Homo sapiens: one gene and its partner. The protein of the gene in region 2 purifies or fractionates together with the protein of the main gene of each other region. This does not show direct contact. Each region holds a gene or a part of one and is shown on either strand. Other genes may lie near its edges.

Region 1 (3,747 bases), on a different chromosome or scaffold from region 2:
GAAGCCTCAACACGCACACACTCGCGCGCACGCCGGCCCATCGGTTGCCTGGAGGAGTCGGGAAGGTGCTTCCACGGCTCTTCATTCATTTTCCCAAAGGCAAGGTTCCCTTCGCCCCGGCGCCTCTATCCTGCCATCCCAGGGGGCCAATTGCGCCACAGCCCGCCACCCAGCCACCCACAGCCACCGCGTCCTATCTCCCGGCACACACAACCCAACAGACTCGCATTACATCTCCACCGCCAGCGTCGCCTCCGCGCCCCGGCCGCTGCCATCCGGCTCCCCAGCTTCGCCGCCCCGCAGCCCCGGCTCCCCGCCTCTGGCCTCACCGCGCGGCTCAGAGCTGCCTCGCTCGGCTCGCCGCACCAAGGCCGGCCAGAGACGCCGCCACCGCCGGGAAGCGCCGGCAACTCCCGAGTCACGCCGCCTCCCGAGACGCGGCGGGGCGCAGGGAGGGGACAGCAGTGGGGGCGGGGCGGGGAGGAGGAAGGAGGAGGGGGCGGGGAGCAAAAGTTCACACCGCTCGGGGCTCAGCCGCTCCCCTATCTCTTCCCAGGCCCGCCCCCGCCATCCCCCTTCCCTGAACCGGGTCCCACGGGCTTAGGCGCGGGAGAGCTCTGGCCTCCCCGCCCGGAACCGCCGCAAGGCTAGAGCCAGGGTTCTGGAAGCGCATCCGAGCTCGCAACCGGGGAGAGAGTGGCGGATGCCCACTTACCTGCCCCGGGCCGCGCCTGGAAACTTCCCCAAAGTGCGATAGGGGTGTGGGGGCGGAGCGCAAGGCTGGGGGGAATCCCCGTCCCCTACCGCCAAACGACGCGCGCTCACACCGTGAAAGCACTGGTCTGTCCGTCGGTCGGTCCCCCGCCTGCGGCTCCCAGAGCTGGGCGGTGCAGGGGCGCCCCGATTCCGACTACTGGGCTCCTTCTCCCGGACAGCCCGCCGGTGCGTTCCACGCGGCTTGCGCCCCCCGCCGGCCTCCGGCTATCCACGGCGCCACCACGCCACTGCTCGGTCCCCTGTCCCCTCGCTCCGGCCGCGTCCTCTCTGCGAGGGAGGGGGCGTGTGTCGCCGCTGGGTAACCCTTCCCGCGGGGTCCTCAAGCGCGCAGGGCGCCCGGAGCGCGGCCAGGACCAATGGCGAAGGGACTCCTCCCGCTGGGGATCGCTGAAGCCTCGGGGAGGCCGGGCCAAGGAGCCCGGGGCCCAAACCTGCCTCGGCTCGTCGAGCTCGCAAGTTCATTGTCTGCCTGGGCCGCCGCCGCCACCGCCACCGCCACCACCGCGCCGGGAGCGCCGCGGGGAGTGAGGCTGCGCGCCGCCTCCGCCGGCCCGGACTCCCTACGCCCAGCCCCGGCCGCCGCCGGCGCTGCCTGGCCCGAACCCGCGGAGGGGCGCCGGAGCCCCGAGCCCAGGGCCAGACCTCCTACCGCCGCTCCTCGCCGACCCCACCTCGGCGTCTGGCACCTAACTTGTACCTGAGAAGCCTGAGTCCAGCCCGGGAGCCTCTGCGGCTCCGGCTCCGCGGGAGCGCGCCCAGCCCCGAGCCTCTAGCCCCGCATCCAGGGCGCGTCAACCTGACTCCCCGAGCGCTGGGAGGAAAAGTTTGGGAGTGACGTGCAGACGGCGAATGAAACATCCGAGGAGAACCCTCCCCCCGCCCCATGTCGCGCTGACACACATCAGCTCCAGTCTGGAATGTGAGATCAAGGCGTGTGCGCCGAGCGGTGGGTTTGGCCCCTGCCCCCTCCCCCTCCGAGTCAACACTGCTTGTGTGTTGCGGTGATTCCAAATAAAAGCACATCGAAACCCCTGAAATCTGGCAGTGACACCTTGCCAGATACTTCTTTTTTTTAAAGACAGAGTTTCGCTCTTGTTGCCCAGGCTGGAATGCAATGGCGCGATCTCGGCTCACTGCAACTTCCGCCTCCCGGGTTCAAGAGAGTCTCCTGCCTCAGCCTCCCGGGTTCAAGAGAGTCTCCTGCCTCAGCCTCCCGAGTAGCCGGGATTACAGGCATGCGCCACCACGCAAAATAGGCTAATTTTATATTTTTAGTACAGACGGGGTTTCTCCATGTTGGTCAGGCTGGTCTCGAACTCCCGACCTCAGATGATCCGTCCGCCCCCCCAACCCAAAGTGCTGGGATTACAGGCGTAAGCCACCGCGCCCGGCCGCCAGAGACATCTTTAAGGAACTTGGCGGTCTGGAGCCAGCCCGTACATTAATATTCAAGGCCACAGCGCTGGTGAGTTCGGCGCCCTCTGTTGTATTTTTGCATCCCGGGAAGGCTGGCCCGGCTCTTTGGCCCGGCGTGTTTTGCTTCCGCGGGGGAGGTAAAGCTCTGCAGGACCCCGATCGCCACGGCCTGCCGCAGTGGCCTGGAGTCGGCTGCCCCAGGGAACCACCTGGACAGCCCGAGGGCAAGAAAGCGGCACCAGTGGCCGACTCCACTGACTCTGGGCTGAAGATGCCATCAGTTAAAGAAAAGACACATGAAATTCTGGCAGATTCGCTCAGAGGGCGCTTGGAGCACCAAGCCCAGCCTCTCAGGAAACTGAGGTCCAAGGGACAAAAAGAATCTGCAGTCTCTTGCCGGCCTGTGTCCCCGTGGCCAGAGTCCAGCACCCTCTTCCTCGAAGCAACCAGAAGTGGAAATGAAAGTGCTCCGTTAACTGTAGACTACATGCCACCGAAGGGTCATTCCTGACAGTGGCTTCTCCCCATTATCTCTTTATTGCCGGAGGCTTCATCTCGCCCCCCTGAAGCTACAGTCCACCCTGAGGTCATAAACTTCTGCTCAGCACCCATGGCAACTAATGCAGAGGTCACCATCAGAGGATTATAACTGCAGATGGGAAACCGGGATGAGAGGGGAGTTCTTTAAAATCCTGTCTTGTTTTCCTGCAAATAATGCCTCTTACATAAAATCTGCGAAGAAAGATGAATGCAGCAAAGAGACTTGCCTTAGAATCTCAGACTAGATTGCTTTTTCCATATAGACTCCACTTAGTGATTTTTGTTCTTTATTTTTTTTTTAAACAAAAACCTATTTCTGAAAATACAACGAGCTGCTTTTTGCAGGGTTCACAATTCCCAATAGATGATGATGCCATTTTTCAAGGTCTCACACACGTTGTGGCTTTGGGGCTTATTTATTAGCTCCCAAGAAAAGCCTGCCTTTCAGTGAGGTTTATATACTCGAGTAATTGCATCAGGGGACACAGAGCAGGTTGCTGTTAAAGAGGGTTGGTTGTACATGCGTCTGCAAGGAAGGCCCTGGGCCAGGCAGCTGTCAGACCAGTGTGCAACGGGTTTAAACAAACACAGGGAAGGGTCTGTGGAAACAGCAAGGAGGAAATCCCCTTCTGTAAGGGTGTGTGGAACATTATTCCAGGGCCACACATACTGCCAGGGAATAATGCCTTTCCTCTCCTCCCTCCAAGTAAACACATAACTCCGTTATGGAGATGGCGCTGGGCCCACCCAGATCACTTTCAAATTCAGGTGTCAGAAACCACGGTTGACATGGAGCAAAATTGTTTTTAAGTAAAAATCACGGTGCCGCTTTGATATGAATTCCACCAGGGACTTTCCAAAGGTATTTATACACGTGCCTGAGATTAACTAGAAGGTGATTTTTTTCCTTTCAACCTTAATTTCAAAAAATTACCCAAGAATTGCACTTGAGCCTGTTACTGCAGAGAATTGAAAGAACACCCAAATGCCAGGTCCCTGTGGATGGGTGGAAGG
Region 2 (3,747 bases):
CAGACCCATTGTCAGGAACTCATTGGCTTTCAGCCCCCTAGCAACAAAGTTACCTCCTCACCTTTTTTCCTTTAAGGCTAATTTTTCAAACCGTGTTCTGAATACCAAACCTTGCTCCTTCATTTATCTCTACCCTCTTTTTTGTTCTGTCTTCAACCGGTTTTTTTTTTCCTAGGTCTTTCCCTTCATTCCGAAAATATGCCCAGGGACCTTTAAAATTCGTGGGTTTTTTTGTTTTTGTTTTTGTTTTTGAGATGGAGTCTCACTCTTGTTGCCCAGGCTGGAGTGCAGTGGCGCGATCTTGGCTCACTGCAACCTCCATCTCCCAGTTTCAAGCGATTCTCCTGCTTCAGCCTCCCGAGTAGCTGGGATTACAGGCATCCACCACCACTCCCGGCTAATTGTTTGTAGTTTTAGTAGAGATGGGATTTCTCCATGTTGGCCAGGCTGGTCTCCAATTCCTCACCTCAGGTGATCCGCCCACCTCTGCCTCCCAAAGTGCTGGGATTACAGGCCTGAGCCACCTCGCCCAGTGTAAATTTCGTATTTACATGTCTTCCACTTTTTGCCTCTAGCCAGAGCCCTTTCTCCTTTTCAAACAAAGTTAGTTTGTTTGAATTACCCTCCCACTTGACATTGTTTCCTCAGTCAGCCTGCTGTATTCTGGCTTCTGCACTTAAACTCTTCTGAAACTCCTTTTTCTGAGATCATTGTTCCATCATTGCACAATGTATTATACTTCTTACCTGATGTCTCTGCAACCCTTAACCCTTGTTGACCATTTCCTCCTTGAAACTCTCTCCTGCCTTGGTTTGTTAGCACACGCTTCTCTCCTACCTATATGGCCTTTCCTTTTTATTATGCTTTTTTCTTTTTTCTTTTTAAGAGACAGGTTCTTGCTCTGTCACACAGGCCGGGGTGCATGACATGCAGTGGCATGATCATAGCTCACTGCAGCCTTCAATTCCTGGGCTCAAGTGATCCTCCTGCCTCAGCCTCCTGAGTAGCTAAGACTACAGATGTGCACCACCATGCCCGGCTAATTTTTTTTAAAGTTTTTGTAGAGATGGGGGTCTTACTATGTTGCCCAGACTGGTCTCAAACTCCCATCCTCAAGGGATCCTCCCACCTTGGCCTCCCAAAGTGCTGGGGTTATAGGTGTGAGCCACTGCGCCTCGCCCCTTTTTATTACACTTTTTGAGTTCTTTACTTGTTGCTTGAACATTGATAGTCTCCAAGGTTACTTTAGCTTTCTTTCCTCCTCTTCTCATTTTCATCTCCTTCCTGGTAACCTCATGAATTCCACACTTCAGCTGCCACCTCCATAGTCATCACTCCCAAACTCTTTCTGTAGCTTGGCTCTCCAAGACACAGCTGCACTGTTGCCAGTTCGTTGGTCACACTTGCAGACCCCACAGGAATGAAAAACTCTTTGTCGCACTGTCTAAACTAGAATACTCGTTTATTCATTTATAAAATGGTGGACGGTATCCCCTATCTGTGACCACGAATGCAGTGTACATTTTCCCAGGAATTGTATCAGACAATCACTTTGTGAGTATGGAAGCAGAAACAAGGAGGCAATCTAGAAGCTGTCTCTTAAAAAAAAAAAATTAACTGTAAAACAGCCTCAGGCAGGTCCTTCAGGAGGTATTCCAGAAGAAGGCATTATCATAGGAGATGACAGTCCCATGCATGTTATTGTCCCTGAAGACCTTTCCATGGGACAGGACATGGAGGTAGAAAACAGTGATATTGATGATCCTGACCCTGTGTGGGCCTAAGCTAGTGTGTGTATTTGTGTCTTAGTCTTTAATAAAAAAGTTTAAAAATTAAAAAAAAAAATTTTAAATAGAAAAAAGCTTATAGTGGCTGGGCGTGGTGGCTCACACCTATAATCCCAACATTTTTGGGAGGTTGAGGTAGGCAGATCACTTGAGGTCAGGAGTTCAAGACCAGCCTGGCTAACACTGTGAAACCCTGTCTCTACAAAAAATACAAAAATTAGCTTGGCGTGGTGACACGCGCCTGTAATCCCAGCTACTCAGGAGGCTGAGAGACACAAGAATCGCTTGAACCTGGGAGGCGGAGGTTGCAGTGAGCTGAGATTGTGCTACTGCACTCCGACTTGGATGACAGAATGAGACTTCATCTCAAAAAAAAAAAAAAGAAAAAAGCTTATAGAATAAGGATATGAAGAAAGAAAATAGTTTTGTACAGTTGCACAATGTGTTTGTTTTTTAAGCCAAGTGTTATTAAATAGAGTCCAAAAGTTTAAAATTTTTTAAATGTATAAAGTTAAAAAGATATAATAACCTAAGGCTAATTTAATATTGAATAAAGAAAAGTGTTTTATAAATTGTAGCTTACATGTATAGTGTGTATAAAGTCTACAGTAGGGGACGGGTGCGGTGGCTCATGCCTGTAATGCCAGCACTTTGGGAGGTCAAGGCGGGTGGATCACTTGAGGTCAGGAGTTCGAGACCAGCCTGATCAACATGGTGAAACCCCGTCTCTACAAAAAATACAAAATTAGGCCGGGTATGGTGGCTCATGTCTGTAATCCCAGCACTTTGGGAGGCCAAGACAAGCGGATCACCTGAGGTCAGGAGTTCGAGACCAGCCTGACCAACATGGCGAAACCATCTCTACTAAAAATACAAAACTTATCCAGGTGTGGTGGCGCGTGCCTGTAATCCCAGCTATTAGGGAGGCTGAGGCAGGAGAATCACTTGAACCCGGGAGAGGGAGGTTGCAGTGAGCTGAGATCGCACTGCTGCACTCCAGCCTGGGCGACAGAGCAAGACTCCGTCTCAGAAAAAAAAAAATTAGCCGCTAGCCAGGCGTGGTGGTGCATGCCTGTAATCCCAGCTACTCAGGAGGCTGAGGCAGGAGACTCACTTGAACTAAGGAGGGGGAGGTTTCGGTGAGCCAAGATCGCATCATTGCACTCCAGCCTGGGCAAAAGAGCGAAACTCCATCTCAAAAAAAAAAAAAAAAAAAAAAAAAGTCTACAGTAGTGTACAGTAATGTCCTAGGCCTTCATATTCACTCACCACTCACTGACTCACCCAGAGCAACTTCCAGTCCTGCAAGCTCCATTCATGTAAAGTGTCCTATATAAGTGTACCATTTTTTATCTTTTATACTATATTTTTACTGTACCTTTTCTATGTTTAGATACCCAAATACTTAAACCATTGTGTTACAGTTGCTTATGGTATTCAGTACAGTCACATACTGTACAGGTTTGTAGCCTAGGAGCAATAGGCTATGCCATATAGCCTAGATATGTAGCTGGCCATACCATCTAGGTTTGTGTAAGTACAGTGTTATGTTTGCACAAAAACAAAATTGCCTAATAACTCATTTCTCATGTTTCCCTGTAGTTAAGTGACGCGTGACTATAAGTGATTCTATTTGAATGTGAAATGAGAAATCCTGCGAAACAGCTATCTTGACAAAATCATTTTCAAGGATAATAGTGTTTTTTTAAATCCATGGCTTTATGTAAACATAGGTCAAATTTGAATACTTCAGTAGGGTTGGGCGTTCTTAATATTCAACCTATGATACCTTTTCAAAGTGTGGAATTGTGGGGAGGCTTATACATTGGGTCTCTTTTAGTAAGAAATACTTCCTGGCCAGGCACGGTGTGCTGACACCTGTAATCCCAGCACTTTGGGAGCTGAGGTGGGCAGATCACTTTAGGCCAGGAATTTGAGACCAGCCTGGCCAACACAGTGA

The links.
Region 1: the proteins of PIN4 (region 2) and CHST15 purify together in Homo sapiens (affinity purification with mass spectrometry; 2 studies listed by BioGRID and IntAct, with this or other methods). This does not show direct contact.

The regions. Positions count from the first base shown.
Region 1 is NC_000010.11:124,091,995-124,095,741, forward strand, and holds the start of CHST15 (carbohydrate sulfotransferase 15), read right to left. Parts: upstream 1,605-3,747; 5' UTR 1,475-1,604; intron 1,334-1,474; exon of another isoform or gene 716-1,333; intron 413-715; exon of another isoform or gene 233-412; intron 1-232. UniProt on the Homo sapiens protein: Sulfotransferase that transfers sulfate from 3'-phosphoadenosine 5'-phosphosulfate (PAPS) to the C-6 hydroxyl group of the GalNAc 4-sulfate residue of chondroitin sulfate A and forms chondroitin sulfate E containing GlcA-GalNAc(4,6-SO(4)) repeating units.
Region 2 is NC_000023.11:72,191,718-72,195,464, forward strand, and holds part of PIN4 (peptidyl-prolyl cis-trans isomerase NIMA-interacting 4), read left to right. Parts: intron 1-3,747.